3 linked regions of the Homo sapiens genome follow. The protein of the gene in region 3 purifies or fractionates together with the protein of the main gene of each other region. This does not show direct contact. Each region holds a gene or a part of one and is shown on either strand. Other genes may lie near its edges. The genes, in order: C1GALT1, USP32 and CX3CL1.

Evidence for each region.
Region 1: the proteins of CX3CL1 (region 3) and C1GALT1 purify together in Homo sapiens (co-immunoprecipitation; 2 studies listed by BioGRID and IntAct, with this or other methods). This does not show direct contact.
Region 2: the proteins of CX3CL1 (region 3) and USP32 purify together in Homo sapiens (co-immunoprecipitation; 2 studies listed by BioGRID and IntAct, with this or other methods). This does not show direct contact.

What each region holds. Positions count from the first base shown.
Region 1 is NC_000007.14:7,180,567-7,184,312, reverse strand, and holds the start of C1GALT1 (glycoprotein-N-acetylgalactosamine 3-beta-galactosyltransferase 1), read right to left. Parts: upstream 1,770-3,746; 5' UTR 1,493-1,769; exon of another isoform or gene 918-1,492; intron 888-917; exon of another isoform or gene 719-887; intron 1-718. UniProt on the Homo sapiens protein: Glycosyltransferase that generates the core 1 O-glycan Gal-beta1-3GalNAc-alpha1-Ser/Thr (T antigen), which is a precursor for many extended O-glycans in glycoproteins.
Region 2 is NC_000017.11:60,390,003-60,393,748, reverse strand, and holds the start of USP32 (ubiquitin carboxyl-terminal hydrolase 32), read left to right. Parts: upstream 1-1,615; 5' UTR 1,616-1,809; coding exon 1,810-1,867; intron 1,868-2,121; exon of another isoform or gene 2,122-3,746. UniProt on the Homo sapiens protein: Deubiquitinase that can remove conjugated ubiquitin from target proteins, such as RAB7A and LAMTOR1.
Region 3 is NC_000016.10:57,370,085-57,373,830, reverse strand, and holds the start of CX3CL1 (fractalkine isoform 1 precursor), read right to left. Parts: upstream 1,342-3,746; 5' UTR 1,263-1,341; coding exon 1,193-1,262; intron 1-1,192. UniProt on the Homo sapiens protein: Chemokine that acts as a ligand for both CX3CR1 and integrins ITGAV:ITGB3 and ITGA4:ITGB1. The CX3CR1-CX3CL1 signaling exerts distinct functions in different tissue compartments, such as immune response, inflammation, cell adhesion and chemotaxis.

The sequences.
Region 1 (3,746 bases), on a different chromosome or scaffold from region 3:
CTCCACTAATACTGAAAAATTATTCTCTTTATGAAGAATTTTAAATGAGTCATACTTTCCTTACTAAGTCATTGTTTCACTTACCATAAGGTGAAGAGTTAACTGTTTGCTAACTTGAAACTTTATATTCACTTAAACTGTACATCTATATATAAAGACTGGTAGAAAGTATAGTGTACTATATACAATATTTAGAACATACAGCATCATGGGCATTAAGCTCAACTGCCATTTACCTAAGAGGGTGAAAAGCTGTCATCTAAATACCTTCTAAAAACTCGGATTCCAACTTCCCAAACTCACACCAGAATGAAGCAACTTGAAATTATGCGCACTTTTTCCTGGCAGAGCTATGTTCTATGCCCAACTTTTAGTAAGTTAACATATTTCTCTCCCTTACACATCGGCCAATTATTCATTGATTCATTATGGTTCTAAATTTATAACTTTTAAATTCATAATGAAATCAATCCATGGTTAGCACAATAGTTTTCTATCTTAAAAAAGCGTTAAAAGGAAATACAGTAGTATGTACAATGGATATAGAGAACTAGGTTAGAAATCTTGAGAATTTTTCCAGGATGTGTGGGTTTTTTGTTGCTGATACTGTTGTTTGCTTTAAATGCGGGGTGGTGGGGGGTGGGGAGACGGTAAGGACCAGGAAAGAATAAATCCACAGCGCTAAATTATGGTCATCTTTTAAGAGTGTACGACTTACCCAAATTCAAAGCAAATGGACAACTTGTCAACACCTACTAATTCCATCACAATTTGTTGGGGAAAAATGGGGTGCAGAAGCAAAAAAAAAAAATTTAATGCCTTTCTTCCTCCTCCATGCCCCGAATGCCCCAACACACACGTATCTGCTTCACTCTGCGGCAGGGAAACTTAAAGAAATAAATCAGCTACAGACAAACCTGATGATCCAAGCTAGACCCAAGCAAGCTCCAGGCACCTCTGGAAGGAGCCCGCTCGCTGGGCGCTCAGGCGGCGCGGCAGCCGAGTGGCTCCCCGGCGAAGGTGCCCAACACCTGGGCGCCCAGTCCGGCGGGACCCACAGGTCTGCGGCGGGGCGGGGAGGGCCCGGGAGGAGGGACTGGGAGGGCCCGGCGGGGCAGGACCGCTAAGTGGTCCGGTCCGGGCGCACTGCGCGCCCCGCCGCGCCGCCAGGCAGCGCGCGAGCAGAAGAGGGGCGCGAGCGGGCACAAGGGAAGGACCCACGACGAAGAGGAGGGTACATGTCCACAAAATTGAGGCCGGGTACGCAGCCGAACGCTGTGGCAGATCGCTAAGGCTCCGGGAGCGGGAAGTCCTCGCGCCTTCCTCAGGAGCCCGGACGACCCCAGCCCGGCTTTGACCCCGAGACACCTGTTCCGCCGCGCCCGGGGTTTGGTTCCATCCTCCACGCTTCCCCACCAACCCGGAGAGGGGGGAGGGCGAGGGGAGACGAGACCTTGGACCCGTAGCCTGAGGGCGCCTCCGCCGGCCATACCTGACATCAGCTGCGGCTCCCTCTCGCCCCTCCTGGGGGGCGGAGAGGGGGACGACTTGGGACTGGTGACCTTTGCTTCTCTGGGCAGCCGCAGAAGTGGCTCGTGGCCGCTAGCCGAGGCCGCCCGCTGCCGCCCAGATTATTCCCCGGCAGCGGCAGCACAGCGGCGGCGGCCAAGGCGGGCCCAGCGCGCGCTCCCGCCCGCTCGCTCCGCCCCTCCCCGCAGCGCGTCCAGGCCGTGGCCCGCCTATGGCGCAGCCGCCACCCGAAGTCTCCTGGCGCTGACGTCTCCGCCGCCGCACCAGCCCCAGGGAAGGGCGGAGCGGGAGGGGCGGTGGGCGGGGATACGGCGACGTGAGGAAGCGGGGATTGGCTGCCGGGTGCACGCTCCGCCCTAATGCGAAGGGGTCTGGGAAGTCGGATCTTGCACGAGCAGTAGATTTTGTTGTATCCCCCTTGCGGCTTGTGTCTGCTACTCTCCGCATTTCTGATCCTGCTGTAAGGTTATGCACTAGCTTCAAGACCTTGAGCGGGACGAAAGCAGGGTAACAATAGGGAGCGAGAAAGGGGATGCTTGAAGGACCTTTGTCTGAGGTACAGGCTCTAACCCTGCAGGACTCTTGTGGCCTGTAGCCTGCTCTTAACCCGTTCATTTGTTTTTCTGTTCTCTCCCCGTGCTCTCTTTACTCAGTATCTCTCTGGGCTTAATAAAAGGAAGTAATAAGATGAAGTATGCATACGGGTGCTGGGTCATCATGTGAGAACCAGGAAGAGCTGAGAACCGAGATAATGATACCAGAAAGCTTTCTATAGGCACATTTCGTCTTTGGTTCTGTCAGCACTTCGGTTCTGTGGGGCAATGGCCGGAAGAGCTTCTTAGGGGCGTAACAAAACCTATCTCCCCTTTCGCTGGGCTCTGAATAAGGAAGTTGTCTTTGGAATAGGGGGAGGAGGCTGCCACCTGTTGAGGCAACCCCACAATAGTCATGAGGTGAGGGTAAGGTTTAGTCTTTACTGGCGTTAACCATTATCTACAAGACCACGTTCCAGAATAGGAAAGCTACCCTGCTTCCTTTAAATGCCCTATCCAAGCGGTTCTTTAGTACTCTACAGCATGGTTGTTAAAGAGTATGGGCTCTGAAATCAGACTGCCCGGGCTGGCATCTTGGTCCCTCCACCTATTGGCAAGTTACTTAGAATGCCTGAGACAAATAATAATATACATTAGTTATTGTTATTTTTCCTTTAATTTGCTTAGGTTCAGCTGTAGTGTAGTTTCTCAGGACATTGCATCAATATATCCAAAAGAATTGTGAAACATAAAGCACATGTAGTGATTCTAATACAGATGTCTCATTTTTCAGATGACAAAACTAAGGCCAGAAAGATAAACTGATAGGTCCATGTTAGAAGAGAAGTGCAGCTATCCTGATGTCCAGGTTATTGCTCTTTCCTTGGCTCATGGGTCCAGACTTCTCTGCCTTACATGATTACGTCCATTCTCTACTCCTCCCCAACTTGTATACAGTTGTTGCTCAGCCTCCTCCCCCTCCACCTTTCCGCAATATCCTTCCACCTTTCCGCAATATCCTTCCACCTTTCCGCAACATCCTTCCACCTTTCCGCAATGTCTTGCCATCCATTGTGAAACATGGAAGGAGAACTCTTTCAGGGGTCAGTGTTCCAAATAGAAACCAAAACTCACAACTCCTTATCTCGTTTTAATTTTATTAAAAGTTATAATTAATAAAGAATAACACTTTTTTCCATTGAGCAAAGATTAGAACCCTTTCCTAAAATAAGGTCAGCCACAGCCTTATCCTGGAAAATTACTTGCTAGAAACAATACTGGACCAAATCAGCCCTGCCCCCACCCTGCCTTTCTTTGAAAATAGCTTTTTTTTTTTTTTGAAGAGATATGGTCTTTCTATGTTGCCCAGGCTGGAATGCAGTGGCTATTCACAGGTGTGATCTTGGCACACAACAGCCTCGAATAACTGGGCTGAAGGCTGAAGCAATCTTCCCGCCTTAGCCTCCCCAGTAGTTGGGATTACAGGCACAGGCTGTGGCACCCAGCTAATAACTATTGTTTTATAAAAACAATACATGCTTATGCAAACAAATTTAAAAAATTTAAACAAAAATGCAAAGAAGTTAAAATCTGTCCAAATACCATAATATAGAGATAACCATTTCTTAAATTTTGTGTTACATTCTTCTAGGCATCTCTCTAAGAATAAAAGCACATATAGAC
Region 2 (3,746 bases), on a different chromosome or scaffold from region 3:
CGCGCCATTGCACTCCAGCCTGGGCAACAGGGGTGAAACTCCGTCTCAAAAAAAAAAAAAAGAAAAACACAGAATATTACCTTCTTTCTCTAGCAGGGTATATTAGAATCTGTTGGTTTTAGGAACTAATAACCTTTCCCTGGCCCTAAATTACCTAACCGGCACCTTGGGTCCAATCTAATCCAAATGGTTACTTTTTCAATATTGCTTCCTTTTCCAGAAGCTTTATTCCGTGACTTTTAGGTTGAAGACGCAAACTAAATAAGAGTTGAAAATCAAGGAACTAAATAATAATTCCACTGTACATATACACCCCATTTGGTTTCTCCATTTATGGTTTCCTATAGGTTGTGTTCACCTTTTGGCTCTCGTGAATAATGCTGCTATAAACACGGGGGCACAAATACCTGTTCACATCCCTGCTTTTCATTCTTTGGGAAATGGAGAGGTGGAGTGGGAGAGTCAGTCACATGCTGCCACACCATGAACCTGGAAGGCACGATGCCAAGTGAAATAAGCCAGTCACAAAAGAGAAAGTCTGCAGAGTTCCACTCAGAGGAAATACTTAAGAGTAGTGAAATTGATAGTAGGACAGCGGTTGCCACGGACCAGTGGGAGGGGGATTGGGGAGTTACCGTTTAATAGGCACAGAGTTTCCCTTTTGCAAGATGAAAAACGGTGGGAAATGGGACGTGGCAATGGATGCAAAACAATATCAATGTTCTTAACGCCACTGAACTCACTTAGAAATTGTGAAAATGGTACATTTTGTTACGTATATTTTACCACAGATTAAAACGACTCCACGCTAAGCCTTGTAGCCCTCATGTTTCTCGGGGAGAAACTCTGGGAGAGAGGATAAGCCTTTTGCACAGCGCTTTCCAGAGAATGTGTACAAGAGGCATGGTCAGGAGGAGAAGGTGGGCCGGGCAGGCGAGATGACCCGAAAAGGCAGATCCACTTCGTTAACAAGGTCCACTTTCCTCAGGGATCTCCCGCTAGGTGTGAGCATTCTTTTGTCACAGGAAAGCCTTGAGATTCTCCTTTCCTTTCACAACGCCCTCCCAGTCAAAGACGTCCCTAAGGTTGGGAGCTCCCTGCCTACCCACTCCTTTCTCTTCTGAGCCATATGCCGCATCCCTCAGAACCCCATTCCCTAAGATTCTGCGGTCTTCCATGTTAGGTCCCGGCAACTGCCACACTAACCGTCAGCTGCTCGGACCCCACCCGCCGAACGCCAGAACATGTGGGCGCGGGGGCGGGGGGGGTCGTCCTCAAGCGCCCCGGAAGTCACCACCCCCCGTCGCCAGCGGAGGCGCCCGGGCGGGGCGCGCGGCTGCGATTGGCGGGAAGATGGGACGATGCGTTACGTGCGGAGATGCGTCCCCCTCCCCGGCGCTCCTGCGCGCGGTTAGCTTGGGGAGGGGCGGAGCGTGCGGCCCTGGGCGGCCGTTACCGGGAACAGTGTCTGGCCTCGGGTCCCGTGACCCTCGGCGGAGCTGGCGGGAGGGGGCGGAAGTGGCAAGAGGGCGTGAGGAGGGAAGGAGAGGGAGGAGAGAGAGGAGAGAGAAGGGCGGAGTAGGAGGCAGGGGAAGGGGGCGGGGCGGAAGAGTCACGTGATCCGGCATGGAGGCGGTGGCGGCGACCGGGAGGAGCCGCCGGGGCAGAAGCCGCACTTGTTAGTGTGGGGGGAGGTGGGGGCGGGGGACGCCGACACCGTCACCGTCACCCAGGGACGCCGAGGAGAAGGCGGGAGGGGGGTGGGGGCGAGATCAGGCTCCGACCCCCCGCCGAGGGGATGAGGGGAGCATGGGTGCCAAGGAGTCACGGATCGGATTCCTCAGCTACGAGGAGGCGCTGAGGAGAGGTGAGGGGGGAGGGGTCTGGGCGAGCTGCCTGGGAGGCCCGCGACGGGCAGCCTGGAGGGTGGGTAACCGGGAGGGAGAGGGGAGATTGAGGGCGTGGGGCGCCTGAGGCGGAAGGGAAAGGCGGCCGGCCTTGGGGAGTGTGGTGGAGGAGAGAGGTCGGGTGGGAAGCAGCGTTTGGGAATTAGGGCCGTTTGGAAAGGGGCTTGTCCTGAGAGAGGGGGATCGGCGCTGGCAGGGCAGTGCCCGTGCTCGCTGGTGGCGTTGTGATCCTGGATGTGTCCAGGGAAGTCCTCTCCCCGTTTTCTTGGGCGGCTCCAGCCCATCCAGCCCCCCTCATCCTTCATTGCCATTTTCTCCTATCATTCCTTCATAAAAACCTCAAATAACATCCTAACCTCGTTCCTAACAGCCTTAGCTGGAAGGGGACGAGGAGGCGGCTGCAAAGCGCTCCTCTCTGCTACTGGAAGCCCCTTCGTATCTGGGGAGTCCCTGCCTTTTCCCAGAGCCTATGCCTGTCTCTTGAGGGCTGTGGCCATCCGCTTCTGCCACCCTTCACCGTTTGAGCGGCTGACTTTGATAAGAACGATCTGAAATGAAGTTGTGTTTGAGGTGAGATGAGACTGGACAGCTGGCGTTGGCACCAGACCTTGTCTTAGGTTTCATCTCCTCCGACGTTGACCAAAGCCTTTGACTGCACTTGATGCCCAGTTCTCGCTCCATCCCTCTCCATGAAATGGCATTGGGAAGTCCAGCATTCAGATATTGTGTTAAATCTCCCTTTAGAGACTGGCCTGGCTGCCAGTCCCGGCCTGCTGCTTATTGGCTCTGAGGCACAGTATATTGTTGGCAGCCCCAACCCCCTACCACTCACTCTGATACCGCTGTCCATGATCACTAAAGCACACACTAACTGGAAGTGTCTTGTTGCACAGTTTATGGCCGGAATGTCTTAATTTTTCATGACTGGGATTTCAGTGTGTGTAGATCTGTGTATGCTTGTATTTCTTTTAGACATTTAATGGATATTCTTGGTAAGAAGTGAAAAAACATTAAGAAGATTAGGAGCTAGGCATTATTGTTAACAGGTTTCCAAGTCAAGAAATCAGCCATGCTCCAGGTGGTTTTAGTAGCTAAGGATATAAAATGGTAATTAGATTAAAAGACGGGTATTCAAAATGAGGCTTGAGAAGTGAACTCTTGTTCGTATATAGGAAGAAGAGGGGTAAGTGGGTAAGTTCAGTTGACCATCACCTGACAGTAAGATACAGAATTGAGATGTATTGGTGGTGGTGGATTTACCAGAATAACACAGATATGCCTTTTATGTCTTTCTTTCTTTTTCCCTTGTGGAACAGTATAATAATTGTTTTTATGGACAATCTCATTTGAACTTTTTTTGTCTGCCCCAATATGAGAAATATTCCAAATTCTTGATGTGTTTCCAGCCCTAGTAGGCTAGTCATTTCCGGGATGCTGTTGAGCCTGACAGGTCTGGCCTCAATTAGGCAATGGCTTACATGGCATGAAAGAGGACATTAGTCAAACTGATTTACAGCTTCAAGGTTCAGAAGTGTTTCTTAAGTTTGAGGGTGTGAATACTAGTGATGTACCTGGCATTGAGAAATTCCAAAATTAAACTTGTATTCAGCTCTAGCCTGCTTAATCTCCTATCAAACTAAGATGGTACGTTTGTAAATACAAATGAAGTTAATTGCATTTTAAACTGATCTGACTGGAAGGTTTTTGTTTAATTTCTTATACAGTGTCTGCCTGTTGAATTTTAAAACACATGTATTTGAAGAGATAGCAAAATCTTTGTTAAGAGCTTATTTGTAACTATTGGAATGAATTTATGTTTTTTTTTTGAGACGAGTCTTG
Region 3 (3,746 bases):
AACTGGGACCAGAGGAGGCAAGACCCTGCTCACGGTCACATAACAGGACTGTGGCAAAGCAGCCGCCATCTGACTCCCTGCTTTCCAGATCTCACTGTCCGCAGACACCTCAGGCTTCAGGGCCCCAGCCCAGACAGCAGGAAGCCAGCAGGAATTTGCCTCCACCACTCTCACGTGCCCACCCACCCACACACCTGCTCCCTGCCCCAGGGTGAGTTTGCTCCATGGAAATATCTGGACAGTGGGGACTACTTCTCATTCTCCCAGACTTGCTGTGTGCCCACCTTCTCTGAAGGTCACCCTGCCAGATGGTGGGGGCACTCCCTGAGGAGGGGGCTGGCTAGCGGTTCATGGAGGTGATGTGGCCCACAGAGGTGGTGAGTGTGCATCTGTGCTCTCTCCTGCATTCAGTCCCATGTGTCTTACCTTCTCCTGCCCTACTTGCTGGCTGTGCATTGTCAGGCCAGTTTCTAAACCTCTCTGGGCCTCCATCTTATCCATATCAGGTAGGATGGTTAATTATGTACCCCTACCAGGTCCTGGGCTTCAGTAAGCAAGTGACTAGAGGCAAAAGCATTTTCTACACTGTGCTTGGAGGAGGAAGACAGCATGACGGGTAGACACAGGCAGAGCAACTGGGGCTATAGACTAGCACAGCAGTGGCAAGCCCCAACCATGAGCTGCAGTGACCTTGACCTTCACTGGTCCTGGGCCCCCTAATCCTGGGGGCTTTGAAAACAGGACAGGAGAAAGTCCCAACTGTGGCCTGGCCCAGGGCCAGGGCTGCGGGTTACACATTAACGCTTGATGGAAAGAGCCAGCCACTGTCAGCCAGGGCCTCCCACCCCAGTGCCCAGCAGGAGCTTCTGCAGGCTCTCTCCACCCCCGCCCTCCTGGCACACCCACACCTGGCTCCCTTATGCCACCCACACCACCTCTCTGTGCTTCCAGGCACAGCCACTTTGCTCGCTGGGCCAGGCAGGGCGGTCGCTGGCAACTGGAAATCTGTCCAGCGCTGCATCTGGGGGAAGCGAGGTGCCCAGCCCCCTCTCGCACATCCCTGGGGAAGCGGCTGCCACCGGCCTTGAGCTTTACCCAGGCAGGGTCTGGGGCCCCTGATGTCAGGCTTGAGGGATAGACAAGGGGCTGGGGGCTCCCTACCCTGTTTGTGCCCAAGTCAAGCCCCACTTACCAGCCAGCAGGACAGTCAGATGGCAGAAGGTGGCCAAGCGGAGCAGCCACGACAGAGATATCGGAGCCATGGCTGAGGGTGGGCAAGAGTCCCGGCGGGGGCCAGGCAGGCGGCTAGAGCCAGGCGGCAGAGCTCAGTGCTGTCCCCTTGCCGCCGCCAGAGATCTGTGGCTTTTTATAATGGGGTTGGCTGCCTCCGCCTCCAGCCCCCGCAGGCAGGAGGGTGGGAGGGGAGAGGAAGGGAGCCAGTGTGCAGCCGCTGGATTCCTCAGGATGTTGCCAAGGAACCAAGCCGGCTTTGTGTCCCTGGGCTTCTCACCATCCTAGGCTTGTCATACTGGGACCTTCCCCGGGAGGCTGGACTGGGCCTGCCTGGGTACAAAGGCCTCCTCTCCTGCCACAAGCTGGGAACATGCCCTAGGATCTGGCCTGGGGCCCTTGATCCTAAGTGGGCAACACACAAAAGGCCAGCAGGCCGTGGAATAGAGAGCGGGGCGCCAAGGGGCCGGGAGAGACTCAGGGCCCCTCCATCCTGGGTCTGACAAGCTCTTCTTTGATCCAGAGAATGCCTCGCCCACATCAGGATGGACCCCTAAATTTCCCCTCTTAGAATCCCAAGCTCCTGGGGGACCTTGTTGATCTATGCATCTCCAGAGCCCAGCAGGGAGCCTGAAGTCAGCAGGGGCTTGGTGCAGGGTCTGCTGAAAGAAGGATTGAGTCCAACTTCATATGGATAGATGGGGAAACTGAGGCCCGGAGCCACCCCAGGTTATCCACAGCATCAGAGTGGAGAACTCCCCTCCCACCACCATGATGAGCAGAATGTGGACAGCTCAGGACCCAGGAGAGAGCCCTGGCCTCCCTGCCTCCACCTCCCGGTCTCCCGCTCCCTGCTTTGCACCCACTCCCACCTCTGCTCTGGCCCCTGTTAGCCCAAAGAACAAGGTGGCTGCCAACCCATCCCCGATAACTCTGTGGCTCTTGGCTCCTCAACTCTGTAGCCGTGGCTTGGATAAGGCTTGCCTCTCGTGGGGCCTGAGTTCTCTATCTGCCCAAAGAGAGCATTGGGCTAGTGCAATGGGGAGAGGGCTTCCCAGCACCGGCCCTCCAACAGGCTCTCACCGAAGGGTGCAGAGGCTTGCCAGCCTTGGGAGCACATTAGAACACAGTCTGCCTTCATGGCAGCCTTCCCTAAAGGCAGTGGCAACAATCCCTGAGACTCCAGAAGAGTCAGCAGCTCTGCCTTGGTATAGGACTGAGCTGTACTGGTGTCTCCAGGCTGCCAATCTGAGGGAAACCAGTTGTGGAGCCAGCATCCCACGCTATGAGCCAGTTGGGCTGGGCAGAGGGGCCACAGATCCCAAGGCCAGGGACCTCTCTCTCCTCAACCACCCCCCCCCGCCCCCCCACCCAACCCAATGGGCTGCCTGGTGCATGGGGTTAGGGGTTAGGAGGCTAGATACTTCTTGAAGTAGCGGAACACCCTTGGCAGGAGCCAAGGTCCACTCATGCTCAGAGAATCTGTCCTGGCCTGTGCACATGGGAAGCTAGTAGCCTTCTCATTCCCAATGTCCAATCCCTCTTTTTATAACTGGTGAAACTGAGGCCCAGAGAGGGACAAGGAGGGATAAAAACTGAGGTCGTGTTCTTTCTGCTCTGTTCATGTAAGAACAGAGGAGGAGGCCGAGTGCGATGGCTCACGCCTGTAATCCCAGCACTTTGGGAGGCTGAGGTGGGTGGATCACCTGAGGTCAGGAGTTCGAGGCCAGCCTGGCCAACACGGTGAAACCTCGTCTCTACTAAAAATACAAAAATTAGCTGGGTGTGGTGCACACCTGTAATCCCAGCTACTTGGGAGGCTGAGGCAGGAGAATCGCTTGAACCTGGGAGGCAGAGGGTTGCAGTGAGCCAAGATCACGCCACTGCACTCTAGCCTGGGTGACAGAGTGAGACTCTGTCTAAAAAAAAAAAAAAAAAAAGACATTTTCTTAGGTTCACCAGCCAGGAAATGAGGGATCCTGGATTCGTCCCAGCCAGCTGGCTCTGAGGTCTGAGCTCAAGACCAGTAGGGTCCACCACCTGCCTCCACCCTCACTGCGAGGACCAATGTGAAGACTAAGTGAGTTTATGTCCATAGGGTACGGGACAGAGCCTGGCATAAAATAGAAGCGAAAATGCAAAGCACGGCTCTGCTTTTCCTCATTTGACCCTTTGGACACCCTCTACCCTCCCCAGGTCCAGCTTCTACTCCCATAAAATGGGAATGATCACCCCCATCTATCTCATTAGGATGTTAAGAACTGAATTTAGATTTAATTTGGACACAATAACCAGGCTTTCAGGCTAGCCAGACCCAAGGCTAAACAGGACTCCAGGCCGGATGTGGTGGCTCACACCTGTAATCCCAGCACTTTGGGAGGCCGAGGCAGGAGGCAGAGGCAGATTCCCGGGAATCTGAGACCAGCCTGGCAAAACCCCCTCTCTACAAACATGGTGAAACCCCCTCCCTACAAAAAATATACGAAAATTAGTGTGGTGGCCTGTGCCTGCAGTCC